Linked DNA regions of Homo sapiens. The protein of the gene in region 3 interacts with the protein of the main gene of each other region in a pairwise test. Each region holds a gene or a part of one and is shown on either strand. Other genes may lie near its edges.

Region 1 (8,076 bases), on a different chromosome or scaffold from region 3:
CACCTAGACTCGATCCCCACCTGCCAGTGAGTCCCTGTGTGACCTCAATCTGGGTCTCAGTTCCCCCAAATGTGAAACAGGAACCTTCAGGAGGAATTTCTCAGAGTTTAAAGGGGGTGACTTTTGCACACAGAGGTGCTTTGAGAACAGGACCCCCAAGACCCTGGCAGTGGGGACAGGCCTGGCCCCAACACTACATGTGGGTGTCCCACAGCCCTGGCTGTGTGTCTTCAGGTAAGTCACTTGCCCTCTCTGAGCCCATCTCCACATGGAGGGTGAGCACAGGCTTCAGAGCCACTTCTGCCTTCCATCTCCAGGCTGAGCAGCAGGGTGGCCTCAGGATGTGGAAAGCACACAATCCTCCATAAAAGAGCTGGGCTAATTCCAAATGAGGAACATGTACTCCCACATCCCTGGTGGAAAACCGAGGGTCCGGGAACCTATGCCTTCTACCAGCAGCTCTTTCGATGCCAATGGGTGGCAGGAGGCCATAGCCAGGCATCACAGGGTGTGTCTGCCTTGCTTTGATTTACACATGCATTCACGGGGTCTCAGTTTCTCCTCTGTAAAATGGACACAGTCCAGTTCTGGGGCAGGAGTTCAGGGGTGAAGCCAAGAAGGCACCAGCAGAGCATGCCTCCTGCTACCCCCTCTCCAGGCCCTTCCTCCAAGGCCCTTCCACGGATGCCAGGGGGGTTACCTACAGCCACTGGAACCCTGCTTTCCTGGACAATCTCCCAGATCAGGGAGTGCTGGGGCTGACCTGGGAGCAGGGCCAGGGGCCAGTCATACAACAAACATGATAAACTCCTACTCTGAGCTAGTCTCCCCCGCGCCCTGCCCTTCTCCCAGGGCGCTCATGGGAGATGAGGGAAGACCACTTCCTGCCTCTCAGGAAGATCAGTCTGTCCACACTACTGTGCTCTTCATATCTACTCTAGGAAAACCAGTGGTAATGGCCCCATTTTAAAGATGGTGGGAAAAACACACATCCCCGTGCTATGTTTTTGGTTTTTGTTTTGTTTTGAGACAGAATCTCGCTCTGTTGCCCAGGGTGGAGTGCAGTGAGGTGATCACAGCTCACTGTAGCCTCGAACTCTGGACGAAAGCAATCCTTCCACCTTTCAGCCTCCCGAATAGCTGGGACTACAGGCGCATGCCACCATGCTCAGCTAATTTTTTTTTTGCATTTTTTGTAGATACGGGGTCTTGCTATGTTACCCAGGTTGGTTTCGAGCTCCTGGACTCAAGCAATCCGCCCACCTCAGCCTCCCAAAGTGTGGGATTAGAGGCATGAGCCACCACTCCTGGTCAGTGGTGTTTTAGTGTCAAATCCTCTCCAAAGGCTCCCAACCCCCCAGCCTCTAACTTCACAGCACATTTCACAGAGCAAGAAACTGAGGTCACATGGCAGGGGAGTGATGGAGTCCAGATGATGGCATCATCCCTGCACCAGAACAAGTACCCTCCCTGGGCTCCACTGGGCCTGTCCACAAGCTTGGGGGCAGGTATACAGTGGGGAAACTGGGGCACATGGGGAAACTGAGGCACAGAGGTACAGCGACTCACCCCAGGTCACAGGGGGGATCCTAACCCAAAACTCCAACAAGGGGGCCAGTGCCTGGGAAGTGGTCATGGTGGTCAGAGGCAGAGCCAGGGCCAGGCAGGATGAACAAGAGCACAGGGTGCCAGACTAAGCTCCATTCCCAGCACAAATTCCAAGGCAAACAGCCTTTTGTATGCAAATATGCCAGAGCCTCCAGATACTCCCTGGCCTTGGGCTGACCTTGGGCAAGTCAAGGCTATCCAAAGGGCACTGGCACCCACGCCCCCAGGCTGTTGTGCCAGTAGAAGGGGCTCCTCAGGTAGTACCAGGCCCTGGGCAGGCCTTGCTCAAACACAGGAGCAAAAGTGCTCATCACCCCAACACCAAATTAGGGACTCTGGACATTAGGCTGCCAGAGTCAAACTAAATAAACCAAATCCACCAGCGCCAGGAACAAGTCTCAGCGCCCACTTTGCTGAGCTGCGGACCTCTGCTCGGTGAATTAGCTCCCTGAGCCGCAGTTTCCCCAACTGTGAGAGGAAGCCATTCTCCTGCCACCTTCCTGCCAGTTCCCTGGGGCTGCAGGCTGACAGTGTGACCTGGTCCAGCCCACCCCACTCCGGGCCTCAGCTTCCTCCTGCGCAGAGCCTTAGCCCCGCAACGCCTGAGACGCCCAGAACCCTCAGGCCTAACGTTCGTGGGCAGTGGCCGCGGAAGTAAGCTTTTGGGATATCTGAGACCCAGAGTTCCGGTTTGGTTCCGTTTCTAAAAGGGTTAGACTTTAGAATCATTCAAGGAGCAAGGCCAGCATTCGAACCCCGGAGCCTTGGGCACGGGAGCAGACAACTCTTTAAGCACATTCTTGAATTCAAACACTTAAAAGTAAAATAAAAAGCAGCTTCTCTTCCTTCCAAAGGCCTCTGAGCCTCCTCCGAGACAGCCGAGGCGATCCCAAGCCTGGCTACAGGGTGACCTCGGACAGCCACTCCCCTCTCGCAGGCTCAGTTTCTCCATCTGTAAAGTGGAGCTGCGCTGGTCACCAAGGAATCGTGAAGATGACACCTCCCTCAGGCGCAGAGAGGGCTCCCGGCTCCCCCCTCCCGCCCCCGCGCCACCCGCCCGCCAGGTGAGGCCGGTTTCGACTTCCCCGGGAGGGGCGCGGAGGGGCCCGGAGCCTGCGGCGTGGAGAGGCTTGGCCGGCCGCGCTGTCCGCAGACGCCCGGGACCAAGGCGCTGCGGCCACTCGGGAACGGGCGCGCGGGCTGCTGCGTGCAGCCGCCTGGTTTCGAACTGCTCGCTGCCAGGCTTCGGCTCCGCTAGGGCGCCTGCTGGGCCGGCGGAGGGTCGAGGAGGTTCGTCCTCGGGGCAGATCGTTGCTGTGGCCCCCACCCACGGCTGTGCGGCCCCGCGACCCCCTCCCCTCGGCTTTCCCGTCTGTGAAATGGGCGCAGAGCCCCGCACGCGGCCACTCGGCCCCAGCCCTCACCTGTGCGGTTCCCTGGGGCAGGCGTGGTGACCCCGGCCCGCCCCCGGGGCCTCGCCTTGCCACGGAGGGTGGCGGCCGCCCAGCGCATCCTGCGCGCTCCGAGGCGCTTGGCGGGGTCTGCCAGGGGAGTGAGCCCGGCTTGTGGGGGCGGGGCCTGGGCCTGGGCCTGGGTGAGGGGCGGGGAGGCCCCGCCCTCCACGCCCGCCCAGGGGCGGTTCCATGCAACTTACAGACCACGCCCACACGTTGGACTGGGGCCGAGGTCCGGCCGGGGGCTGTGGGCGGGGGCCCTTGGGGAGACCAAATACCCAGCGGGCCAAGGCAGCCGGCTGAGCGGAAAGTGTTGCTACTCCGGGGCGTTGCACGCGTGGCTACCTCTGCCCAACACCCTTCCCCCATCCCTTCCTGTTCTCACCTTCACTCCTAGTGTGGTTTTTCCATGTGCTTCTGTGTTTTTATTTTTTGAGCAGGATTTTGCCTTCTCAGGGTGCCGGATTCGGCCGGTACCAAAGGGCAAACAGCAAAACGCCTCCCCGGCCCGCCCCTCCCGTAACCCACTCACCCCCAGAGTCCTGTGTGGACCCAGCCTTCTTTCCCTGTCTCTCACTGGGCCAGGCCGTCTGAGGCACACTGAGGTCTGGGTGCCCTTGTTGTCTTCGGTTCTCACTGAGGGGCCCCCGGCTGGGGGAAACAGGATGGAAAGCCCTGGGGTCTGTCTGCAGGGCCCACCACACCTGGAGGCCTCCCTTCTCCTGGCTTCCCCTTCCCACCCAGCTCCACTTGCAGCAGGCCCAGAGCTGTGATCCGGGCTCTTTCTCTCCCTCTGACCCCACCCAACCCAGGCTTAGCCCCCTGCCCAGGCAGCCACCAAAGGGTTGGGTGTGGTGTCAGGCCTCAGACATCCTGGATCTTGGGCTGCTTGTGGGAGACCACCTGAGCCATGCCTATTCCTGTGGAGCTGGCAAAGGCAATCCTGGCAGAGGGAACAGCAGGTGCAAAGGCCCTGGTTTGGCAATGTGTGGCAGCAGAAGCCCAGTGCGGCTGGCTTAGGCATGCCTCCAGGAGCGCAGAAGGTGGCCCAGGTGGGCCAGGCTGGCTCTAGAGTGCCTGGCAGGTGACCGTGAAGAGTGTGGATGTTCAGGTGGACCATGAAGCAGGGTTCCAGCAGGGCAGCCCCTCCCCGTCTCTGCTTTCCGAGCCCTCCAAAGCTGAGGTTCAGTGTGAAACGTGAGGGGCCCTCCCCCTTTCGCCATCAGGGTTGGCGTCACCCCTGATATGTTCTTCCCACTTGGACTTGTGGGTCACACACGATGGCTTACTTCAATCTCCTTTATTCAAAATCAAGCATGTGTATTCTTTCTGCCATGTCGGGAAGGGCAGGGCCATCAGCAGTGCCCACTCCAGACCACACTCTGGGACCCCAGAATGTCTTGCCAAGTGGCCCCTAGCCCACCTCTCAGGCCTGTGTGGTCCCTTCCCTGGTTTTGCCCACCATGCACCACCAGGCAGAAGGCCACTGCCTGTAGGTGCATGGACAGGGCTGGGAGGGAGGTCTGGGGCAGCCCTCCAATAGCTGGGTGGAGCTAGGTGGGGATGGAAAACACCAGGCTGCCTGCAGCTCCCTAAGCCACCACGCTGTGACCCAGGCCTTCAGGAGCCTTCAAATGCTAAACACCTGGCCATTTAGGAAGTGTGTTTCCTAGAGCTGTGTAACATAGTACCCCAGACTGGGTGCCTGAGAACAACAGAAATTTATTGTCTTATGGTTCAGGAGGCCAGAAGTCTGAGATCAGGGTGTCGGCAGGCCTGCAGTCCCTCCAAAAACTCCAGGAGAACAGCCTTCCTTGTATCATCCAGCTTCTGGCAGTTCCTTGGCCGGTGGCAACTTAACTCCTGTCTACACATGGTGCTCTCCCTGTGTCTCTCTGTGTTCAAATCTCTCTTCTAAGGACACCAGTCATATTAGATTAGAGCCCACCGTAATGTCCTCATCTTAACTTAAGACCCTATAAAGAGTCTGTAAAGACCGGCCAGGCTCAGTGGCTCACGCCTGTAATCCCAGCACATTGGGAGGCAGAGGCAGGTGGATCATAAGGTCAGGAGTTTGCGACCAGCCTGGCCAACATGGTGAAACCCTGTCTCTACTAAAAATACAAAAATTAGCTGGGCATGGTGGCGCGTGCCTGTAGTCCCAGTTACTTGGGAAGCTGAGGCAGGAGAATCACTTGAACCCGGGAGGCGGAGGTTGTGGTGAGCTGAGATTGTGCCACTGCACTCCAGCCTGGGCAACAGAGCAAGACACCATCTCAAGAAAAAAAAAAAAAAAAAGAAGAGTCTGTAAAGACCTTGTCTCCAAATAAGGTCATATTTGGAGGTACTGAGGGTTAGGACTTAAACATATAGATTTTGGGGGACACAGTTCAGCCCCTGACAGGTGGGATCAAGGAGGAAAGAGCATGTTTTTCTGAGCAGTCTGTCGCTTGGTTGGGTTGTGGACATTCAGGCTTGTGGCGCTGGGCCTCCATTTGTACTGTTAGGGGACCTGGAGGTGGCCTAAGGACCTCTGTCATGTCGTTTCCACAGGGAACTGTATGCCTTGCTGTGGCTCAGAACACCCATTTGCTGCCAAAAGGCCATCTTCAGGAGCTATGGGAGGGATCTGAGGCTGGTTCTGGAGGTGGGCCTGTCACCTATTTGAACACTGATCAGGGCCATCTTGTCCACCTTTTCCCAGGCCCTTGGAATGGTTTGCTCCTAGAAAGCCCAGCTATTCTAGCCATGCACGTGGGCGAAACTGAGGCATGTGAAAAGAACGGCACTGGCCCACTAGGGACAACCGCCTGGGGTGCCCCCTTCCATGGTGAGAACCATGGCTCTCTGACAGGCTTCCCTGATCCCTGGGGCAGGGGTGGGCACCCTTGCACTGAGTCTTCGTGTTCTCATCTGAGGGGTGGACATTGTCCTGCCACCCTCTCAAGGCAAGTGAGAGACTGTGATGTGCTCAGGATGGAGTGGTGGCCTCTAAGCTGGACTGTGAAGGCCCGTCAGCTTTTGAGCTTGGCCCACCCGCTCAGCTGTCCTAGTTGCCTGGTTTCCCAGACTCTCCAAGTCTAGGCACAAACTGGGAGCAGTGCTTAGGCTCTGCCTGCTTGGGTGTGTCTCCTTGCCTTCCTCACCCTCCTTCTCCATGGAGCCCTCCCTGATGGCACTCCCTGTCAGAGCCATTTCGTGCTGCCTGTCCTTAAGGCCTGCTCAGCCTGTGTCACGTCTCTGAAATGAAGAGGACATGTGGCCAGGTGTGGAGCTATGGACATGTGGCCGGATATGGCCGAGAGGATCACTTGAGGTCAGACACACCTGTAATCCCAGCTACTTGGGAGGCCGAGGCACGAGAATTGCTTGAACCTAGGAGGCGGAGGTTGCAGTGATCTGAGATTGCACCACTGCACTCCAGCCTGGGTGACAAAGGGAAACTGTGTCTCAAAAAAAAAAAAAAAAAAAAAAAAAACGCAAAACATATGGGCTTCCCTGCTGGAGGAGGCAGGGGAGGAGGCTAGGAGGAACGGATGGGCTGCTGGCTGCTGGTGAGGCAGGCCGGGAGAAGGAAGCAGAGTCAGGCACAGCCTGAGGAACTGACCAAAGCCACAGCCTCTTCCCAGCTCCATTTGCAACTGGGAGCACACAGTGCACTGTCAGTGGACACTTGTTGGATGGAACCTGGGAGGCAGGGGAGGCCTGCCAGCCCTGGGGCTCAGTGTTCCACTCTGTAACATGGGGGTCTTGTGCGCTGCCAGAGGTTTCCAGAGGAAGGTGAGGGTCTGGCTTGGGAGTTTCCTCTTTCCTCAGACCTTAGCTGAGGTGTTGCCACCCCCAGGAAGCCTTCCTCAACCCTTGATTTGCCTGACTCAGCACCCATGGGCCATGGTGGCCTGGGAGGGGACCCATGCAGAAGTCTGGTGGTGGCAGAGTTCTTGGCTTGGTGAGTTTTTCTAAAATTAGATAATAATTGTGGAAATCTAAAACAGTTTGTTTTGCCTTTTTTTTTTTTTTTTGACAAAGTCTTGCTCTGTCACCCAGGCTGGATTGCAGTGGCATGAGTTCAGCTCACTGCAACCTCCACCTCCTGGGTACATGCAATTCTCCTGCCTCAGACTTCCAAGTAGCTGGGATTACAGGCATGCACCACCACGCCCAGTTAATTTTTGTATTTTTAGTAGAAACAGGGTTTCACCATGTTGGTCAGAGTGGTCTTGAGCTCCTGACCTCAGGTGATGCACCCTCCCTGGCCTCTCAAAGTGCTGGGATTACAAGTGTGAGCCACTGCGCCCAGCCTGTTTTGCTTTATTCTTGATTTTAGTTTTTACTCAATAGAAAAATGAGATTTTTGTTCTGAAAACCTCTCACAATAGACCACGTCCAGAAAGTTCTTTTGCAAAAGGTAAGAGTCAGGGAAGCATTGGTGGCCTCATGGGTGTCCTCTCTTTTTAAAAACTGTATTACCTTTTAAAAACTAAAAGCAAAAAAAGAAAAAAAAAAAGTAACCTGACCTTGAAGCTCTAGCAGGCCAGATGTTTGCAGAGAAAACAATTTTCCCAAAAATGTTTTCTGCTGGGCCATCTGGAGCCCTCAACACCCACCACTTATCCTCCTAAAGCAAGGCAAGAGCCCTGTCCCCACTGTGCAGAGCGACAAAGGCCCCTCCCCGGGGGTACTCCCCTGCTGGGGCCTGAGCTGTGACCACCAGACTGTCCTACCTGGCTGCAGCCTGCACAAGCAGATCAGTCAGCCTGGGTGACATGACATCGAGCTGCCGCCCTCAGGTTCAGAAATGGTGATGCAGAGACACAAAGCAAGGCGCCCAGAGGGCAGAAGGAATGACAGATTCATGGAACAGCTACTACCAAACACCTACTGCATGCCAGGCCAGTTTAGAAGCTGGGATACAGCTGGGCCTAGGAGGGACAAACTCTGGCCAGGGGCTGCTCCCCCCATGCTCATCCTGCACACCAAGGCCTTTACCTGGCCACCACTGGGCTGGCAGATA
Region 2 (7,881 bases), on a different chromosome or scaffold from region 3:
ATTCTTCCATCACATGCAAAATACTTCCCTGAGATTGTCCCTAATATAGTCTATGAGCCTCTAATTGATACTGCCAACCTCTTCCCTTTTGAGAGGCCAATGGACCTCAGGCTGTAACACTGCTGCTTCTTATTTTGTAGCAAATCTTTGTCTCTTACAAATTATTCTGCTCCCCAAATGCTTAAATGATAGCTGTTTTTTCTCACAATTATTTATAATTACAGGGCCCAACAGGTCTTCCTCATCACCAGTTCCTACAAGTAGAAATGAGGAGACAAAAAGGAAAGTGACACAGCTATGGCATTCCTACAGCCCCCTACTCTTCTCTTAGGCCTGTGGGGCAAGATTCCTAAAAGAACAGCATACCAGTTGCTCACTCCGAGGTGGAATAAGGGAGACGTTAGTAGTCACATATGTACTGACCACTGTGTTCATGTACTGAATCTGGCTGGACAGGCTGGTCACTGCCACCGTGTAGAAGTTGGAGTTCCTGATTTTCAGGGTGGCCTACATCAGGGCAAGTCAGGAAACAAGTGTAAGTGTCCTGGGTCCCAGCCTGGCAGGTGCACAACCCAGGGAATGAAACCCTAAGGCTTACCATGATGGTGAGAATTACAAGGGAGTCTTGCTTATTAAATGTGACTTTCACCACTTTGATGCCGTCATCATCCACAAGGACTGAATGCGGAAACAGGAAGAAAACCACCAAACCAGATGCCAGGAGACAAAGCAGGATGGACAGGAGGACATATTGCTTACTGCAAATGACACAGCACATGACCGACCCAGGCAGTCAGATATCAAGGTTCAATGTGTCAAGATTAAACACAAAACCAGGAAAGAGAAGGGAGCTGAAAGGGAAGTTCCAAGAGCCAGGAACCATAAACCAGTTAAGAAGCAGTGAAGCAGGAGAAACCTTTTAAAACTCCTTTAAACACTGTTTGCACTCTGGGAAGAAAAGCTGAAGAAAGGAGCTATGTGGACAGAGACAGTCCCACACCTCCCAGAACACTCCACTTTCCCAGTTTCTTCTGATTCCATTCCTTGACCTTCAAAGCATTTCCAGCTTCAAGTTTCTTTCCCCAGATTGTGATGGGGGCAGAGATATCTTGCTTGGGCAAACAGTTATAAGGAAAATGGGGAACTTATAAGAACATGTGTAGTTTTCAAAGAATTAACTGGCATTCATACATACAGAAAGAGATTAGGGACAGAAGTAGGTATTAACAGGTGAGAAGCAGGTAACTCACGTTCGCTGAGGGCGCAATCTCTGATCACTGTGTGGGATCAAAGCCACCAACTCATTTACTTGCTCTAGAAAAGAGCCAAACAATTATTTTGTAAATCCCATGTGTTGGCAGTACTTCCTTCACGTCTCACTTGAGCCTGCCACAACAAATATTCTTCTGGAATGAGACATTTTAAAAAATACTAGTGAAATTCACATGTTGGGTCTAATGAACAAGAAACAAGAGAGTGCCACAAATTATAAAACATCTATCAGTGCTGCCAGGGTAGTGATGTGGAAGTTGAAAAACCTGGGATCCTGTTCTGGCTTTACTGCATGGGCTTGGCAGAGTCGTCGAATCTCTCAAGGCCATGGTTTCCTTGCCTTTCATATGGAAGCTTTGGAGTAAATGATTTTGAAGGTCCTAACCAGCTCTAAATTTCTGTGACTCTCCAGCTAAACTGTTAAAGACTTTCTGAGGGCCAATTTGTTAATAGTAATAGATGATCCTGTACCAAGGCTAAGTATTTGTCTCTCTCTCTTGACCTGATATATTTTTCTGACCTTAGGCTGTTAAGGATTAGCTACCCATTTCCTTGAAAAGCAGCTTCCAAGATGGTTCCCCCGCAAAGCTGTCCCAATCCTTGTGACAGCGATAAAGAAATGTGCCTGTCAACAAATCCCACAACACAGAGCGAACTGAATGTTCCAAACCTCAGGAAAAGAACAAGAGTGGCGGTAAAGAAAAGAAAGGGTTGGAAAAATAAGGAGAGGAAGAGAAGTTGCAGAACTGCCCAAGTGTATTAAGTCAGTTGAGCTGGCTCCTGTCCAGGGCACTGTCTCTATTATGGTATTACTGCCTAGAAGAAAAGTTGTCTGGGCAGACAGGAGAACTCCGAGGGTACCTTGGGATTCTCATCAGGGAATCATCCCTCCATGATCACCTGTTGGAATGTAGCCTGTCCCCTGGCACGTGAGACAGGTGATGCTATCTCTCCCGGTGAATTCCACATATGGGAACTGAGCAATGGCTTCTTCCTGCTCTCGTTCAGCCAGCAAACCGTCCCTGTCATCTTCTTGCTTTCGCCTGCAGGAGGAGGGGCGAGCAGCAGCGGAATGCTGAGACCCCATGGCCGTGATATGCCACTGGTGTCATGTCCTAAGATGAAAAGAGGGAGTGCACGTTAGCGGCCCCAGTGAATCACGACAGAAATCGCTTGTTTCTATAAGAAAATTAAAAACGCAAAAATGACAAGTTGCCGCCCTGAGTGTGGTCCCAACACCTGTACGATTTCTATCGGGACCCTCATTTTGTAGTAGTGCTACCCACTCTCCTCTTACCCGCCACACACAGCCGGCGGGGGTGGGGAGGGGGAACGGGGCCTGCCTTTCACGCACCTGCCTCGATCCTCACCGCCCTGGGACTTGGGGCACCCCCGCTCCCACCTGGTCCAGCCTCGCCCCTTCCTCTTCACTATTTGTAAGCTCTATGCCCCTCCTCGAGCAACAAACAGGCACCAAATTGATAACCGGCCTTAACGATTCCCATTCCTCTCCACCCCCCAGCCCCAGGAGGCGGGCTCAGGTCACGCCCCTTGGCAAAAAGCGATGCTCTGAGCCCACCAAAGTGGCCCAGGCAGGAGCGAACGCCAGCGTCGCAGACCTGCAGGGCACGAACTCCCGGCAGCTCCTCTCCGGCCGCTCCCCCGACCACCTGCCAGCTTGAGGACTTACCAGCCTCTTCGGTCGGCGGAGCGGCACGCACTCAGCGCGCAGGCGCCAAATACCAAGCCCGCCAGGAGAACGCGGGCGCGCGCTCGCGCGTGCGCTCTTCGCGGCTCCGGAGGCCTTCCCAATATCGCAGCTGTCTGGCTCCCTCGGTTCCGGTAGAGGGCGGCAGAGAGCGCCGGGGAGCCGCGACCCTTGCTGTTGGGCCGCGGTAGTCCGCGGAGTCGGGATGATGCTCTGCTGTTCGCTAGATAGGCTGGGAAAGGCTCCAGTCAAGTTTCCAGAGCAAAACACTTCTCTGCTGCGAGAGGAGGAAGGTGCTGCCGGCTACCGAAGCCATTCTGAAATATTCTTTATAGTACAGGAGCTGTGTAGTCGCTGAGGGTACACACATGCGGAGCATTCGGATAAACTGCCTTTGCAAAAATTGTAAGTGAGAAAATTATGACAGTGAAAGAGATCTGACTTACCCAGTTCCGTCTTGCTTCTAACCTCCGAACTGCCCTTGTTCATTCCTGGGTATAGGCCAAACTAACTTTGGGAGGAATTTAGTTTATAGTTGAACTTCGAAGCAAAGATAACAGCCCTTCCCCAAAACAAACCCCCTTCTTGCCTGGGGACCAGACTGCCTTTGTAAGACTAACAAATTAGCCACAAGATTAGAAATTATGGTTTAGGAGTCATCCAGACAGAGGTCACAAGATTCCAAACCTTCCCTATTGCTCCAAGGGATAACATCACTATTGTAAAATCTAAGATCGGTGCTGGGGATATTTTTCAGACCCTGCATTCTGAGGCACCAGCTGGCAGTACCTAGACCAGTTATCTGGCTCAGCCAGTTCTGCAATCCCACCCAGGAACAGAAAACAGCAAGAAGAACCCACTTAGACCCCCCTATGATTTCATCTCCAACCTGACCAATCAGCACTCCCCACTGCCTGATACCTACCAGCCGAATTATCCTTAAAAAACCCCAGTCTCTGAATTATCGGGGAGACTTATTTGAGTGATAAAACTCTGGTATCTCATTCAGCCGGCTCTGCATGAATTAAAATCTCCATTGCAATTCCCCTGTCTTGATGAATCAGCTCTGGGCAACGGGCAAGGAGAACCCGTCCGGCAATTATATCAGAACCTGTCTTCAGTCCAGGAGGGGAACCCAGAGGCTTCATCAGACCCCTCCAATACTGTAGATAAAAGTGCTGCTGGAAGTCTCACAAGTCAGAGGGGCCCAGCCTGGGGGAAACCTTCCATGGGGAGTCCTGCTGGCTTCTCGCAGGAACGGACCCCACAGCTGAGCTTTGCAAGCCAATTAGGTGCCAAGAGGCACCAAGGAGTAGATTCATTCGGTAGTAGGGCCCCCCCTTCCCCAGACCTCCACAAAAAAGGCACGTACGTAAGAGGTTAGAAAGCACTTTTCGTTCGTTTGTTTGTTTGTTCGTTTGTTTTGAGATGGAGTCTTGCTCTGTCGACCAGGCTGGAGTACAGTGGCACAGTCTCAGCTCACTGCAACCTCCGCCTCCCGGGTTCAAGCGATTCTCCTGCCTCAGCCTCACAAGTAGCTGGGATTACAGGCGCACACCTCCACACCTGGCTAATTTTTGTATTTTTAGTGGAGACCGGGTCTCACCATGTTGACCAGGCTGGCCTCAAACCCCTGACCTCAGGTGATCTGCCCACCTTGGCCTCTCAAAGTGCTGGGATTACAGGCGTGAGCCACTGTGCCCGGCCTAGAGGGTACTTTTTAATGGGTGGGTTTCTTTGTTCATACTGCCAGGTTGAGCTTAGCCTGCAGCAGCAGGAGTTGAGTACAGACATTAACCAGGTGAAATTATTAAAGATGATGCTAGGGGAGAGGAGATATTCTGAAATGGGATGAATAAGGGGCCCACTTGGCAATAGAGAGTGAGGCTGAGGCTGGTGACCCCTCAGGTTTCTGCCACCTCTGTATTTTCCTCTTTCTCCTGTGGGGAATGCCAATGTACCTGCTGTTGTCTAGCCATCTGCCTGACCACTGGCCACAATCAGCCCACTGAGTCTTTAGTAAGAGGCAACAAGGACCCTCTACTTCCCCTCTCACATCTCTGATCCACCTCTTCTCCTTCTTGAAATGTTTTTTTTTTTTTCATCTGTTGGGTCACAGAAAACGATTCCCCAAAATATGGTGTTTGAGCATACGGAGTGCTTTTGAGAATTAAAAGAAAACAAGCCTCAGAATCAAGGTACCTCTAACCTTGTCTTGTTCCTCCGCTCAACCCCAAGCATAGGGGAAGACTCTCTCTGGAATTTCCTTGTCTCACCAAGAAAGCTTTTTTTTTTTTTTTTTGAGACAGGGTTTTGCTCTGTCGTCCAGGATCAAGTACAGTGGTGCCATCACAGCTCACTGAAGCCTCAAATTCTGGGGCTCAAGCAGTCCTCTGTGAAACAAAAATAAAGCTAAGTCTTCTCTACCCCCAGCCATCTGCATGGACCCCTCCTCTCAGCCAAGGGCATTCCAAAGTTAACCTGAAAAACTAGTTCAGGCCATGATGGGAAGGGGGAGTCAGACATGCCTCACTACCGTTGTGAAAGAAAAATAAATTTCAGGACCCCCAAATCATGAAGTCAAGGGAAAAGTCAAGCTGGAGACTATGTCAGGCAATTCTGCCTCCCATTTTATTTCTAAATAAGGTAGCTACAAAGATCAAAATTACATATCCCCCTCACAATTTGCCCACAAGGAATTTCCTTGTGGACAAAGGACAGACATGACTCAAAGTCATCTTTCTGAGGCTCACCTGAGACAAATGTGTATTCGATTGCCTCCTCTGCCCTACGGTGTATGTAAAAATGCAGGTGTACTGAGCCAGACTAAATTGTGTATTCAATGGAAGGCGGATGTAGGACTCAAAAGAATGCAACCTTTTTTCTCTTATCTATTTCTGACCTGAAAGACCCCCACCTCGGCACCCTTCGAGTTGTCCCGCCTTACTGGACCCAACCAATGCACATCTTACACATAATTATTGATGTCTCATGTTTCCCTAAAATGTTTAAAAGCAAGCTGTACCTGACTACCTTGGGCACATGTCGTTAGGACCTCCTGAGGCTGTGTCACAGGAATGTCCTTAACCTTGTCAAAATAAACTCCTAAATTAATTGAGACTTATCTCTGATACTTTTTTGGATGATACCTCCCACGTCAACCTCCCAAGTAGTTGGGACCATAGGTGTGCACCACCACGCCGGGCTAATTTTTAAATTTTTACTGGCGATGGGGTCTCCCCCTGTTGCCCAGGCTAGTCTCAAACTCCTGGGCTCAAGCAGTCCTCCTGCCTCAGCTTCCCAATGTGCTAGGATTACAGGCATGAGCCACTGTGCCTGGCCAAGAAAACTTCTTACCAAGAGTTTGTATCCCATCCCTGAAATATCATGATCTATGGCAGAGAAGAAGACTGAAGAATGCAATCATGCTTGGATGGAATTTTTCACAAGATAATGCCTGCCTTTCCTGCTCATTCAAATTGCAAAGAGAATCATTTACAAGTTAATGTGTCTGCCTTGTCTATTCATTCTCCCTAATCATTTACTGCCCCTCAAAAGAATTGCTTACATTCCCCATCTTCTCTCTCCCCTGTAAAGAAGGGTTGTATCCATTCTCAGACTGCTATAAAGAACTACCTGAGACTGGGTAATTATGAAGAAAAGAGGTTTAATTGAATCACAGTTCCACAGGCTGTACAGGAAGCATGGGTGGGAGGCCTCAGGAAACTTACAATCATGGCAGAAGGTAAATGGAAAGCAAACACATCTTACCATGGCAGAGCAGCAGAGAGTGAAGGGAAAAGTGCCACACACTTTTAAACCATCAGATCTTGTGAGAACTCACTCACTATCACGAGAACAGCCCCCATGATCCAATCACCTCCCATGAGGCCCCTCCTCCAATTCAACATGAGATTTGGGTGGGGGTACAAATCCAAACTGTGTCATTCCACCCCGGCCCTCCCAAGTCTCATGTCTTTCTCACATTGCAAAATACAATTATCCCTTCTCAGCAATCCCCCAAAGTCTTAACTCATCCCAGCATTTACTCAAAAGTCCAAGTCCAAAGTTGTTACAGGAAAGGGGTCCCGATCCAGATCCCAAGAGAGGGTTCTTGGATCTCGCTCAAGAAAGAATTCAGGGCGAGTGTGCAGTGCAAAGTGAAAGCAAGTTTATTAAGAAAGTACACTTTGGGAGGCTGAGGCAGGTGGATCATGAGGTCAGGAGATCGAGACCATCCTGGCTAACATGGTGAAACCCTGTCTCTACTAAAAATACAAAAAATTAGCCGGGCATGGTGGCGGGTACCTGTAGTCCCAGCTACTCAGGAGGCTGAGGCAGAAGAATGGCGTGAACCTGGGAGGCAGAGCTTGCAGTAAGCCGAGATCGTGCCCGTGCACTCCAGCCTGGGTGACGGAGCAAGACTCCGTCTCAAAAAAAAAAAAAAAAAAAAAGAAAGTAAAAGAATAAAAGAATGGCTACTTCATAGACAGGGCAGCCACAGGGCTGCTGGTTGCCTGTTTTTATGGTTATTTCTTGATGATATGCTGAACAAGGGGTGGATTATGGATTATTCATGCCTCCCCTTTGTAGGCCATATAGGGTAACTTCCTGACGTTGCCATGGCATTTGTAAACTGTCATGGCACTGGTGGGAATGTAGCAGTGAGGACGACCAGAGGTCACTCTCATGGCCATTTTGGTTTTGGTAGGATTTAGCTGGCTTCTTTCCTGCAGGCTGTTATATCAGCAAGGTCTTCATGACTTGTATCTTTTGCCGACCTCCTATCTCATCCTGTGACTTAGAATGCCTTAATGGTCTGGGAATTCAGCCCAGTAGGTTTCAGCCTCATTGTACCCAGCTCCTATTCAAGATGGAGTTGTTCTGGTTCACATGCCTCT
Region 3 (7,359 bases):
AACCTTCTTTCTTACCTGCATTGTTCGGTGAAATGTTGTAAATTACTGAAGGGTACAGGGGAAGACTCCTTCCCTCTCCACTGTTGATCTTCATGATAGAGTAACTTCCCTCTCCTCTTAGAAAGACTTCATCGCTATCACATTAAGATGGAATGTTAAATACACTCTTTTAAATTGGAAAGGAAATGAAAAACTATAAAGAAAAGAAAAGAAGACTTGGGGGACAAACTGTAACTAATTAATTTGTTGTAACTCTTAAACCAGCTGTTATAGAAATTGTTGTAATCCTGTTAAATTCTTTTGTCTTTTTCCTACATAAGCAAGAACTTAATTTTCAGCTTTGGAACACTGACTCCATTTCTGTGGAGTCTGTGTGTTACCGAATGGCCACTCCTAGCCTTTTGCTTGAATCAACTCTTTAAAACTGGATTCTGACACTTTTGATTATTTCAAATTGATGCTGCAATCAATGCCTACATCACAACTTGTCTTGAACTAAGCACACAATCATTCATACCCTCATCATATACACAAACATATTACATACATTAGATATGCACCCATAAAATACACCTTCAATCCCTTGCACAGCATCAATCACATGCATAGTCTAGATCACACACACCCATATCAATCACACTATACTCACTCTGTGCACATAACATATATGAATGTCACACACATTGCAGTCATATAATTTATTTAGGGAAGGGAAGATTGTTCAGCTTGGGTATGTATCAAGAGAGTCAATATCAGGAAAGTCTTGGGTTAATCAAGAACAGATGCCATATGAGCTGAATGTCGACAAAAGTATAAGAGTAAATTAGGTAAATGAAGACAAAAGTGTATTCCAGGCAGAGAAACAACACAGGCAAAGTTATGGTATCAAGAAATTATGCTATTCATAACTCTAAGTATTTGGAAAACATTGACAAATAAATGCAAGAGGGGAGTGGTAGGACTATTGATGGAGGCAGGGGCTGCTACTTAGAAAGCACTGAATACTCTACCAATACCTGAGGATGTGCATAGACTTTCTAGTTGCCGATAGGTTCTACCATCTTTAGGTCTTCTATGCTATCAACATACCCGTCCATGCTACAATGGAATTCAATGTAGTTGAAGCTCCTGCTCTCTGTGTAGCTATTTTTGGAATTCTCCTGGTGACACTTGAGTACTTTGAGAGGATTCTGGACCCATACATATGCATTTCGGAAGCGATCCATCCAGTTGTCACTAGTGCATATATGCTCGATTTTGTACCATGAGATATAGATAAACATGTGAGAGCTCTTGTCTTTCAGAGCTTCATTTTCTCTCATGAGGACATCACATTTGTACTCTCTGAATTCTCGACTTGGACTTAAGTAGTGCTGTTTCATGAATTCTCTCCAAGAAACTTCTTTGCTCTGTACAAGCAGTGTGCATAGGATGCAAAGTAGGGCCAAGAGTGTGCCCCAGATCTTTAGAGACGATGCCATCTCAGTCACCGGGGCCGCCTGCGTGTCCACAGAGAAGAGAAAGAAAAGCATTATCCAGACAATGCCCAGAGAGCTGAACTCCACCTTAAAATTCCTTCCCCACCAGGCAGGCACTTGGGTGCAATTTTACTATTTGGTTCCCCGATGAGAAGATGCTAATTCTCATTAGAGAATAGAGTTTCTAAGAACTAAAAACACGCTTCAGCCTGTGTAAGCGAAACACATAATTAGAAAAAATAGATGAAGTTCATTTTGAGAATTCCAACCATCTCCTCTCATCCCTCTCTTACACCCAACCTGAGGAGCCAATCACCCTCCAGCTGGCTCCTTTTTACCAGACCAACTCTCAGGAGATCATGTGTCCAAAAGAGAATGATATTTTAAGGTTTATGTCCTTGAAGTGGAAAGGGTTGTCAGATTTTAGGGAAATGTAGAAAATGAGTAACTACTTGGGAAGTGGTTCCTAGGTAGGAAGGCTTCGATTCGCTAAAATGACAGCCTAGCCTGCAATTACTTCTTGCCTGCTTCTCCAATTACTTAATGATGCTTCTCCAATCTTGACTTCCTTATAACACTTTCTCCAAAGCCTGAGTGGAACGTATGTTCATTACTAACTACCCATATTCCTTCTCAGGGGTCATTCCCCTAATTATCACTATTACAAATGATCTTGGTTTGTCAGAGCTGCTCCTTGAAAATGTCATCATAAAATAACTCCAGTTTTGAGGTTTTTATTTGTTTATTTATTTTTGAGACAGAGTCTCACTGTGTCACCCAGGCTGGAGTGCAGTGGCACAGTCTTGGCTCACTGCAACCTTCACCTCCAGGGTTCAATAGATTCTCTGTCTCAGCCTCCCACGTAGCTGAGATTATAGGTGCCTGCCACCACACACAGCTAATTTTTGTATTTTTTTTAGTAGAGACAATGTTTCGCCATGTTGGCCAGGCTAGTATCAAAATCCTGGCCTCAAGTAATCTACCCACCTCGGTTTCCCAAAGTGCTGGGATTCTCAGGCATGAGCCACTACACCCAACCAGAATTCCAGATTTGAAATATTCCTGTAATCAATCAAGCACCAAGACTAAAAGAGCCCCCACAGTGGCTTCTGTGGTGATAGCATGGAGTGTGGGGATCTTTTTGAAAGAGTCTACCGTTTAAACTAGTGCTCTGTCCTCATTTACCATGAGAAGTGTTCCCGCCCTTACTGAATCTCTAACCTGATTCACAACTCTGAGCATTGGTGTCCTCAGATGGACTTAATAATAGCTCCCTACAGACCTGCAAGTGTCTAATGAGACGCATGTATTTGAGAGCACTTCTAATGATGTCAAATGTCCACATCAGACACAGAACAAAGGGTCGGTACTTCCTATCTGTGGAACCCTGTCCTGATGATAAAGACCTACAGAGGATAGAAGAGCAGGATGTAAGCGGTTTTAATGCATTGTGTTTGAGAAGACTGGGGGTGAAGGAAGGGAGGGGCAGGGAAAGCCTGTATCAGTGGGACTGAGGCTGACCAGAATTCACACCTTTGTTTTCCATGATTTGGATCCTTCTCCATTGTTTGCTATCTAAAAGTTCAATCAGCCTCCTTTCAGTGCTCCTGGCTGTCCCCCAAACATCCTCAGCAGAGCCCTTCTTACCCTACTCAGACTCCAAGTTCAGGTCACTGGTTGTAGTTGGGATCAGTGTGTGGATCTGAAGAGCAGAGTCTGAGTCCTCCTTTCCTCAGGGCCCTGGAAATCTGCAGCAGTGGAGAAAGGAATAGCAGGGGGAGCTGCAAGGCTCCAGCTGATTGGTAGTGGAGGTGGTGATGGGGAATAGCCTTATTATGTGAACTTGTTCCTGTATCTTCTCATCTGGAACACTTGAGTTTATTCAGACAGTGGCCTCAAGCAAAGGCTACAAACATCAAAGGCTGACTCCAGGGCACAGAAGAAGTGCAAGACCCTAGAGTGAGGTGACCCCAGAAAGGGGTTATCTGGTGCTATCAGTAGACAACGAGAGACCTGGCTTCTGCACTCAATTTCTGACAAAGTTCTGGGAAGTCCCTGGAGGGTTATGCTATGTTACACAGAAACTTCTCTGAAGAAAGCCACTTATAACATTGTGAACTGTGGGACTTTCGTTGAGAGGTGAAAGAGTATCTAGTGAAACTGGTGGCCAGATAGTTATGATTAGGTAGCCAGTATCTGAAGTTTTACTAGGCAGTTTGTTATTGTCGATGAAACGAGTCAGCTGGGTGTGGTGGCTCACGCCTGTAATCCCAGCACTTTGGGAGGCCAAGGCGGGAGGATCACCTGAGGTCAGGAGTTCAAGACCTACCTGGCCGAGGTGGTGAAACCCCATCTCTACTAAAAATACAAAAATTAGCTGGGCGTGGTGGTGGGCACCTGTAATCCCAGCTACTTGGGAGGCCGAGGCAGGTGAATCGCTTGAACCTGGGAGGCAGAGGTTGCAGTGAGCCGAGATCACGCCATTGCACTCCAGCCTGGGCAACAGGAGCAAAACACCATTTCAAAACAAAAGAAAAGAAAAAAAAAAGAGTCAAACTCTGTAAAATATTTGAAGAGATTTATTCTGAGCCAAATATGAGTGACCATGGCCTATGACACAGCTCTCAGGAGGTCCTGAGGACATGTGCCCAAGGTGGTTGGAGCACAGCTGGTTTTATACATTTTAGAGAGGCATGAAACATCAATCAAATACATTTAAGAAATACATTGGTTTGGTCCAGCAAGGCGGGACAACTCAAAGCTGATGGGGAGTGGAGGGCCTCCAGGCCATAGGTGTATTTAAACATTTTCTGGTTGACAACTAGTTTTGTCTAAAGACCTGAGATTGATAGAAAGGGAATATTCAGGTTAAAATAAAGATGGTAGAGACCAATTCTTTCGAAGTCTTATAGTGGCTGCCCTTAGAGACAATAGATGACAAATGTTTCCCTTTCAGATCTTAATTAATATCTTTAGGATTGGAAGGTCTGGAAGAAAAATATTTAGCTATGTTAATAGAGATTCTTTACAGATGCAAATTTTCCCCCACAAAGAACAGCTTTGCAGGGCAATTTCAAAATGTGGCAAAGAAACATGTTTTGGGGCAAAATACTTTTTCTTGTTTGTCTGGTAATGTTATGCCAGAGTCAGGTTGGAAAGTAAAACATGATATACAGGGTTAAATAAAACTCATCTGATGAGAATTGATGATTTGTAGGGCATGACTCCCCAGACCCCTTAGATAGGAATTTGGGCAAGATAAAAAAAATCAGAGTTTAGTCCTCATTAACAATAACCTTTGCTGACGCTGTAGTCCTTACTGCCTTAGTAAAATGTCAGGTAGCCTAGCCATAGTTTCCACAATGTTCCTATATATCACATCTGACTCTGAAGTATGCATCACAAGGTGTTGACCTAATTGTTTTTCAGGAACTCAAGACTCAGCCCTAAACTCAGCTCACTCTGGTCAAGACCACCAGCCCTTAAACTGAGTTTGTGTGAGCATCCCATGGGTGACCTTTCCATATCACATCTGGAATTTCCAGCACGTTTCATACCAACTCCCCCTAAATTGGTATATGCAACGAATATTGTTTCAGTAACAGTAACCAAAGGTTTCACTTATGGATAATGTAAGATACTTGAATGTATTTTCTTTTTCTATTTATTTATTTACTTTGGAGACAGAATCTCCCTCTGTCACCCAGGCTGGAGTGCAGTGGAGCAATCTTGGCTCACTGCAACCTCCATTTCCCAGGCTCAAGTGAATCTCCTGCCTCAGCCTCCCAAGCAGCTGGGACTACAGGTGGGCACCCCCACACCCTGGTAGTTTTTTGTATTTTTGGTGGAGGCGAGGTTTCATCATGTTGGCCAGGCTGGTCTCGAACTCCTGACCTTAAGTGATCCGCCCGTTTCGGCCTCACAAAGTGCTGAGATTACAGACGTGAGCCATTGTACCTGGTCTTGAATGTATTTTCTATCAACATCCGCAAGGCCACTCCTACCTGAGCCACCTTGGTTGAGTTTGTCACTGGACCACCTAGCTATTAGAATGTCAGAATATTCCGTTTATATCCAGAACTTTTCTTCATACTTCAGCTCCTGTCAAGCAATCATTGAATAATAGGGAATCATGTGCTGATAGACTCTGTGGGGCACGGGAGAGATATTGTTCCTATGGAACTGAACTGGGGTCTGATCGTCCAGCACAGTAAGATCAAATATCCACACCAAGGTCTGCGGCAGGAGAAAGGAGGGAGTTTATTTGCAAAGCAGCAAGCAAGGAGAACCTTGTGGCTCACACTGAAGACCTGACCTCTCTGATGACTTCAGGTAAGGGTTTTTAAAGGCGGGAAAAGGCCGGGTTCGGTGGCTGACGCCTGTAATCCCAGCACTTTGGGAGGCCGAGGCAGGCGGATCACGAGGTCAGGAGATCGAGACCATCCCGGCTAATACAGTGAAACCCCGTCTCTACTAAAAATACAAAAAAATTAGCCAGGCGTGGTGGCGGGCGCCTGCAGTCCCAGCTACTGGGGAGGCTGAGGCAGGAGAATGGCGTGAACCTGGGGGGTGGAGCTTCCAGTGAGCCGAGATTGCGCCACTGCACTCCAGCCTGGGCGACAAAGCGAAACTCCGTCTCAAAAAAATAAATAAATAATTAAATAAAGGCGGGAATAAATTTCAGGAAAGCAAAAGTTACAGGCAAAATAGTAAATTAAAATGTGGAGATTACACATTAGTTTGGCTGAATAAGGCAAGGTATTGAAGCAGGGGCTCACAGGTCATAGGTAGAGTCAAAGATCATCTGATTTGCAATTGGTTAAGGAGATGAAAGTTTGTTTAAGAATGGGGGTCAGCAGAACAGAATGTTAGCTTTGGATCATGGGTGTGACTTTCTCCAGGCCACTCGAAATAATTTAGATGAACGGTGGTGAGAGTTTAGTCCTCAGTTTCCCCCTTATCTGAGGTCTATGTGCCAGCAGATCTGTTTGTTGGGGGTCTGAGTTTCTGAAGAACTCAGGGATGTATGTTAAGATGCTATTTTTAGTTTCTATAGGGAACCAAACATCCCCTGATTCTAACTTCCCTGGTTATTGTTTTAAGCTAGCATTACCTTCTTGCTTATCTAGTTCCTCTTTTTTCTTTTCAAGGCTAGCTAAGAAATTGAAGATTTTCCTTTATTTCCATGCTGGGTTGGGGAGGGTGCCCTGCTCACCTCTAAGATAGATCCCTGCTCTGTCTTATTGCCTCAGAGCAGGTTCTATGCATCCTCCTACTCTCTAGGTCTTTTGATGATAGAGAAGAGATAAAGGAAACAATTCTGGGCATCTGGATTTGGATGACTTGAGAGGCGATTCTGAGGGAAAATCAGTCGTTTGTCATGTGCCCACACATCCAGAGCTCTTTCCAACAAGTGTGCATTATCTATTGAAGACTTAAATTCAAGTAGTGACTCAAGGAATGTAGAGAGAGGTGGGAGAGAGAAGCTACCTGAGCCAATGTTCGAAGAAGCAAGCTAAGAAAGAGCTCTAGAGCTTTTCAAGGCATCATATCTGATGATATATTCTAGTACATCAGTGAGTAATTTTGAGAATTTTTAGAAGTAATGCATTTGAAAGTAGTTTTAAAACAATAAAATGTAACCAAATGCAGGCTTGGCTGCTTGCAAAACCAATAACAAGGACAAGATGCAGTGAAAAGAAAGAAGCTTTATTCCAGAGCTAGCACTGGAGAAGTGGCCATGGCTTGTGCCTTAAAGGAACCATTTCAAACTTTAGCCTGGGGAGAGGGGCTTACAAAGGGAACTTGCAGTGGGTGGCATGCAAGGAGTGGTGCTGGGTACAGGTCCGTGCGTCTCGTTCTGGTGGCTATCTTGAGTCAT
Region 4 (7,265 bases), on a different chromosome or scaffold from region 3:
TTATTATTATACTTTAAGTTTTAGGGTATATGTACACAATGTGCAGGTTAGTTACATACATATACATGTGCCATGCTGGTGTGCTGCACCCATCAACCCATCATCCAGCATTAGGTATATCTCCCAATGCTATCCCTCCCCTCCCCCCACCCCACAACAGTCCCCAGAGTGTGATGTTCCCTTTCCTGTGTCCATGTGTTCTCATTGTTCAATTCCCATCTATTAGTGAGAACATGTGGTGTTTGGTTTTTTGTCCTTGGGAAAGTTTACTGAGAATGATGAGTTCCAATTTCATCCATGTCCCTACAAAGGACATGAACTCATCATTTTTTATGGCTGCATAGTATTCCATGGTGTATATGTGCCACATTTTCTTAATCCAGTCTATCATTGTTGGGCATTTGGGTTGGTTCCAAGTCTTTGCTATTGTGAATAATTTTTAAGGGTTTTAAAAGACTGTAGAACTCTAAAATCAGAGCTATTATAAGGGGAATGTCATTCCTTTAACTGCTTCCTCCAAAAACAAGTTACAAAGCTGTAATCGGAAGTATTCATTATATAATAGCAAGGAATCTGGGAAAAGGACTAAAACAGTGAAGGTAAGTAAAATATAGAAGGTTAATTGAATATATTTATTTTTAATTTGTTGATTGTGTCATCCGAACAGTATTTTATTTATTGTTGTAAGAACACTTAACATGAGACCTACCTTCTTAACAAATTCTTTTTTTGTTTTTTTTGAGACAGGGTCTTGCTGTGACACTCAAGCTGGAGTGCAGTGGCACAATCACAGCTCACTACAGTCTCGACCTCTGGGGCTCAAGCCATCCTCTCACCTCAGTCTCCCAAGTAACTAGGACAGGTGTGCGCCACCGTGTCCGGCTAATTTTCTTATTTTTTGCAGAGACGGGGGTCTCACTATGTTGCAGAGATTGGTCTTGAACTCCTGGGCTCAAGAGATCCTTCTGCCTCAGCATACCAAAGTGCTAGTATTACAGGCATGTACCATAGCACCTGACCTTGACAAATTCTTAAATGCAAAATGCAGTATTGTTAACTATAGGCACAGTGTTGTAGTGCAGATCTATAGAATGTATTCATCTTGAGTAACTGAAACTTCGTATCTGTTGAACAGCAACCCTCCATTTTCCCCACCCTACAGTCCCTGGCGACCACCATTTTACTCTATGTTTCTATGAGTTTGACCATTTTAGATCAAGTCAGGTCATTGCAGTATTTGATTAAGTGAGATCATGCAGTATTTGTTTTTCTGTGACTGACTTCTTTCATTTGCATAATGAATTAAGCATTTTAAACATAGCTAAGTAACTATGAAGTAACTAACTGGCTAAAAGTATAAGGTCTTAAACTAAAGATCTCTTGATTATAACTATATAATACAGTATTCCCAAATGAAATAATACTACCCCCAAAAGACTTGCAACAGAGAGAACATGGCTAGGACTTGGGTGAGGGTTTTATGATACTAGCATAATCAGAGATCATCTCTGCATTGCCAGTCGCTTTCTGTTATACAAACTCCTCCAATGGAAACTAATGATAAGTCGTTTGTTAAAGTGTTCTGCACAGGTTCATTTTTCACCTCCCAAGACTGAGCTGACTTTAGCATGTCACTAAGTTGTAACAAGAAAACATGGAAGAATCCAAGTGTGCATTTAAAATTAGAGGTCAAGGCCTAACAAATGTTTATCACTAGGTCTAAAAGTAAGCCAGCAAGATTAGATGTGCTGAGTATCTGATCTATAAGCAAACTGAAAAGCAAAGTAGATCCAAAACTGTGATCTGAAGTAAAAGATGCCTGGTAGAGAAGACAGGAGAGAGAGAGACCCTTCATTAAAGTTTGTGCTGATCAACAAAAAATAATAGCTTTGAAATGAAATTAGTTTGGGATAAAGATGAAAACCTTGAAGACTTTTAATATATAATATAATATATATCTAAAAGTAATGCAAAATATGCAACCTTATTTAGTGGTAGCCCTACTTATTTTTTAAGTAGAGGAATTAAAAAAAAAAGAACTCTAGAAGTACTAAGTTGAACCATATGATGTCACCATTTTTTTTTGTACATTAAAAAATTTGAACATTGGAAATTTCATATGGCTCCATCAAAAAAAAGGGAGGTTCATTAATTCAATGCCAATAACAAAAACCTGAAGACATGCTAACATTTTGTGGTTTCAAAAGGGCGTTTACTTCTGTGGAAGAGTGTTATTGAAGCAGAAACAGGATTTTTAATATTCTATGCTACATTTATGCTTCAAGTCTTACAAAGCTGTGGCTAGTCAGTACTCACTTAAATAAGACTAAAAATAAAATTTTCCATTTATTACCACACCTTTTTCTTTTTGTCTCACCTATGATATCCTTCCCTAATAGAACTTTATTCCCAATAGATTTTTCCATCCCTCTTGCTGGATCCCTGAAACCAGCTATTAATGGTAAAACTTCAAGCACGTAGTCCTTCTGTGCCCACACATACACCCCACTTGTCAATCTATTATTCACCGGTTTTCTCCTACTCACTCCAGCCCTTCTCTACTGCTCTTCTTTCTTCCAACCTTGGCACATTGAGAGTCCCATCTGTCCATGTCAGGTTGTCAGGTTCCCTCCACCCCTTTCCTTTTAATACACCAGTGACCTAATCTCTTCTGCATAGAATGTGGCGATTCTTGTAGGTCTCTTTGCCTTTCCCATGTAGCTGTTGTTTTTAACAATGCATGCCAGATTTTGTCATGTTATTTTCCACTTTTGCCATATGTAGATTTTGGTGGCTGTCTCAAAACCAATTTTACCTATAAGACTTCATAAACAGAATCTGAATTGTATAAGCTAGGCTAAGTGTACATACCTCCGATGTAAATATCAGAATAAAGGTACACATCTATACTAAGTATGTTTCTACGTGGATTGCTATTTTCTTTTGGTACACAAAACACAATGCTTGCTATGGCAGCATTTCAGAGGTCCTTCTTACAAAAAAAAGAAAAGAAAACAGCAACTTTCCGGGCTCAGGAAGATGAGCACAGGGTCTCAGTGAACTCCCTCACGCTGTTAAATATGAGGGAAGTAATTTAGAACAGGAAGGGGAGCTCAAAGTGCCTTCGACATTTTTTGATGATGGGAAGTTTCAGAACAGTGCAGGTACATTTCTGACTTTGATTCTACTGAGTGTAATCATTTTTCACCTTTGATTTTTTAGTAGTTGTAGAAAGCATTTAGCGATGTCACTGGCAGATAGACAAACATAATATTTGATACTCCATTGTTCTGACCAACCCAGCAAAACCAACCACCCTGCATTTACTTACCTTGAATTTGCTATTTCCACTTTGGTTCTGGCCATGGCAGCTGCCCTTTGGGCGCCTTCAATTGCTCTGTCCACCTTCTCCCTAGTTTTTGTATGTCTTATTGGTATAAGCTGCTTCCTTATCCCACGGACCAGAATATTATTTTTGTATTTTCCCTCTTCTTTGGAGCCGTCAGGAAACACGGTACAGCCATATCCATGCCTCTTGTTATTTGCCCACTCCCCTTCATACTTCATGCCATTGGAGCGCTCGCTAACGCCGAAGCCGTTGCGCTTGTCGTTCTTCCACTCGCCCATGTAGGTTTCCGTGGTGGTGGCGTCCACGTGGTCTTCCACCGGGCAAAAATCACAATCTACATCGCCAAAGCTGATCGTGGAGTTGGCATCGCTGGAACTAATTCTGCTCATGGCCGCGTCGCTGCGGACAGAGCTGCGCTTGCTCGAGATGGAAGACTTGGATTCGGACTTGCGAAGTTTCATGCTTCCAAGAAGGGAGCCCCTCCGGAAGAGGCCGCCCTTCTTCTTGCCCGCTAGCTCAGCGTCTGCGTGGAAGTTGAGCACGAAACCGCCGCGGGTGCCGGCCGGGCTGTCGGCGGCGGCTGCGGCGTCGTGGAGCACGCTGCCATTGCTCTGCTCGCTGCGCAGCGAGGCCAGCGAGGTACGCAGCGGTGAGCGGATCACCGTGGCCATGCCGTAGGGCACGCTCTGGCGCACGCCGTAGCCATGCCGCATGCCTCCGGCCCACTGGCCCTGGTAGGTACCTTGGAGAGACCGCAAGAAAGCACCGTGAGTCGGGGGCAGAGCTGCACCGTCACCTGCACCATCCAGCGCACACTGGCGCAGGCCTGCCCAAGGTCAAATCTGACCCATTTCCAAGTCAACCCTGGGGGATACTTTGCATCCACTTGTGAATCCCCGCCCTGTAATTTTGGGTGTAAGGCTTTAATGTCATTGCACAGAATTTTCTAGTAGTCAGATAATTTTTGCTTTTCATTAAAATTTTATGCAAGTATTTCAGAGGAAAACCACTACTTTCTAATACAAAAAGTGAACACTGGGAAACAACATTCTCCTCTGAAATTAATGCATCAAAAATTCCTCTTGGGAAGAAGACAAGGAAACAGTAGAAGATGAAATGAATTCTATGTGTAAATTTTATTCTAATATTACTAATTTAGCTGGAAAACTGTAAAAAATGACTTTTAGGTCTATGTCAGTATAACATTCCAAGAAGTATACAGGCTTAAATCGGAATACTTGGGACACAGTCATCAAATGAACGTCTTAAATTTTCTGCTACATTCAGCATCTCTTTTTTTAGTGTAGACAAAACTGTTGAATATTCAGGATTATCATTTGAATTTGGGTGAACCTTTTTGAGCTAAGAGAGAATCGACAACCACAATATATATTATGAATACAGTGAATTATGAAAAAAATGAGTAATTTAACATTTTTGTGCTTCTAAGTGAAAAGGCCAAAGCTTTGTGCCGTATCATTTGCCAAATCTCTGCATCCTCTATGGATTTCCCTAGCTGCCACTGCATTGTGAATCACACCACAGACTAGAAGCACCCTGAGGGCAGGAATTACTTCGTATGAGAACACAAAATTCTCATGTGTCCTCTGGTCTGTGTTTGTGGATGGAGGGTGTTTGATGACTATGTTGACGGTAAAAAGCTATGGTGGCTAAAAAGTATACCCTTTACTCTTGGAGAAACTGATGTAAGGCCAGATGAAATCTTCTACTGTTACCATTTTGGACTTCATCTCAGAGGAAAGGTATATTTGACACTATCTATTAAAATGTTGATACCAGATGACTCTGTCAACAAATATTATGCTTTTTCATGATAGTCTGTCATCTAGAGCATTTGTAGTGAATTTTTTGCTACTAAATAAATAAGCAAAGACATTAAAAAATAACCTGGTACAGGTTTTAAAATAATCTTAGGAGGAAATGAATGTTAAATTAGGGAATTTAGAAGTTTCTTTTCAAAATCAATTTCCTTTAATTAAGGGTAAATTTTAATTTACAGTATCCCTCAAAAGAAGCTATCTGGAAAATTTAAAATGTAATTACTTCTGTGTTATTCATAACAATTCACAATGTCATAGAAAACAAATAATGATTAGTCTGTCTTGACCTCTTTCCATTTCTGATTATATAGATCTACCCTGCAGTCACTTTGCATTTTATATTTCCATGCACAGATTTCCATTGCATGGCACATATTCATTTTCAAAACACCGGGCAAAAATGCTAGTGGTTTTATATAACTGTGTTAACAATGGCTGGTTATTTCATTGCACTTAAAAGTTAAAACCATAATGACTCCCAAGTCAACGGTTTTGACCAATTTCAAGACTACCTTCTCTTTTTGTTCATTCTGGCATATGTGACACAGGCAATAGTAGATATACAATGAAATACTAAGTGGGTCTGGTACTGTAAATGTCATATTCTGGGTAGATGTGAAGTCTTAACTTGACATCTATGAACTTCTGAGGAGGTGGGTGGCCCACAGTTTTCTCTGAAAGATTAACTCAAGAGGATAAGATAGTCATGTAAAACATTTCAGGCTAAGAAGCTTCCTATTGAATACTGGCCATCTCCAAATACCGCCATCTTAACAGGAATGGGAATGGAATTATTAGGAAATTTTGACTTTGACTTTTCCTTTGCCTATACAGGTAAAATTTAAATTCTAGGATGAAAGTTTCACAATCTGGCTTGAAGATACTAAAATAAACCACCTTATTTTTAATATTTTGTTGGTTAAAAGAATGCTATAATCACATCCTCCTAACTTTTGTCTATAGTGACAAGTTAATTTTGCTAGAACAATTTGCAGAGATGCTGTTTGATATCAATAAGTATCTGCACTTTTAAAACACAGCCATACCATCTTGGTAAATGTTTAACACTGATGGAAAATTAACAGCTAGTTTCTTTAAACTGTTATCTCCAAAAATAAGACTAGTACAGTATTTAGAATTTCCAAAAAAGTATGGCTTGAAAATCCAAGCTGTTTAAGGCAACAGCAATAATTAGAAAGTTTAAGTCTCTGCTTAACTGTCAAATAGGGAAGGGGGGGACAAGAGCATTGGCCACATTCCTCTCCTATTTTGTTAAATCACAGTATATGAAAGAATTCCTCCACAGAATTGCTAGAAACCAATTTGCAGTCAAACTGTTAGCAGTTCATCTGAAATTTAAAATAGGTTTAGTTTAGTCAATGAACCTAGAATAAGAAAGGGCCTATTTCTTTATGAAGCAGGTGGGTTCCAACTTCTCCCTGCTGCTCAAATAAAGTTCTAATTAGTTCCTCTTGATTCCTAAAATGTAGATGCATATTTCACAAGTATAAAAATTACTTTTACCAGTTTTAAACTGTGTTCATTTGGGAGCTAATTTTTTAGATTTAGTCATTTTAACTACACAATCTTGTAGTGGAAGGCATCCAGTTTAGGAGTTTCAGTCAAATTTGCACTGCACTATGCCAAACTTCAGTTTATATGCTCCGAATGGGTATGTGCAAGTATGCATCTAGTTAACAAAACGTTGTGTTTTCCCAGATATTTTCAATAGTTTTATGACAAGTGAAAAAACAAAGTACAGATCAGAATTAGCACAAAAAATTCTGGGCACCTAGACTTGGATTTCATGAGTATGATACTAACTTATTGTTAATATTCAGGGGGTTTCTATTTCAGCAACATGTAATACACAAATCACTAATAAAATAAGTGATACGTCTCACATGGAATTACTGCTTCCTTCCTCCTCCAGTTTAATGTCACCACAAAAAAACTCGGAATCAGATTTTCCCTGAATCTGATACAGGGTGTACAGGGATGGACATGTGGCGATGGGGAGAGTGCAAACAAAAACAAGCTAACTCCTTAGTGAGAACAGCAGAAAACAAGCTAAT

What was found.
Region 1: the proteins of EDDM3B (region 3) and SUSD3 interact in binary tests that used the Homo sapiens proteins (3 or more experiments, as listed by UniProt).
Region 2: the proteins of EDDM3B (region 3) and TMEM106C interact in binary tests that used the Homo sapiens proteins (3 or more experiments, as listed by UniProt).
Region 4: the proteins of EDDM3B (region 3) and JPH1 interact in binary tests that used the Homo sapiens proteins (3 or more experiments, as listed by UniProt).

What each region holds. Positions count from the first base shown.
Region 1 is NC_000009.12:93,053,787-93,061,862, reverse strand, and holds the start of SUSD3 (sushi domain-containing protein 3), read right to left. Parts: upstream 3,163-8,076; 5' UTR 3,121-3,162; coding exon 3,033-3,120; intron 1-3,032. UniProt on the Homo sapiens protein: May play a role in breast tumorigenesis by promoting estrogen-dependent cell proliferation, cell-cell interactions and migration.
Region 2 is NC_000012.12:47,958,715-47,966,595, reverse strand, and holds the start of TMEM106C (transmembrane protein 106C), read right to left. Parts: upstream 3,001-7,881; 5' UTR 2,892-3,000; intron 2,799-2,891; exon of another isoform or gene 2,627-2,798; intron 2,388-2,626; 5' UTR 2,360-2,387; coding exon 2,173-2,359; intron 1,315-2,172; coding exon 1,251-1,314; intron 759-1,250; coding exon 599-758; intron 508-598; coding exon 367-507; intron 1-366.
Region 3 is NC_000014.9:20,764,273-20,771,631, reverse strand, and holds EDDM3B (epididymal secretory protein E3-beta precursor), read right to left. Parts: upstream 3,229-7,359; 5' UTR 3,126-3,228; intron 1,500-3,125; 5' UTR 1,482-1,499; coding exon 1,038-1,481; 3' UTR 684-1,037; downstream 1-683. UniProt on the Homo sapiens protein: Possible function in sperm maturation.
Region 4 is NC_000008.11:74,311,530-74,318,794, forward strand, and holds part of JPH1 (junctophilin-1), read right to left. Parts: intron 4,092-7,265; coding exon 3,332-4,091; intron 1-3,331. UniProt on the Homo sapiens protein: Junctophilins contribute to the formation of junctional membrane complexes (JMCs) which link the plasma membrane with the endoplasmic or sarcoplasmic reticulum in excitable cells.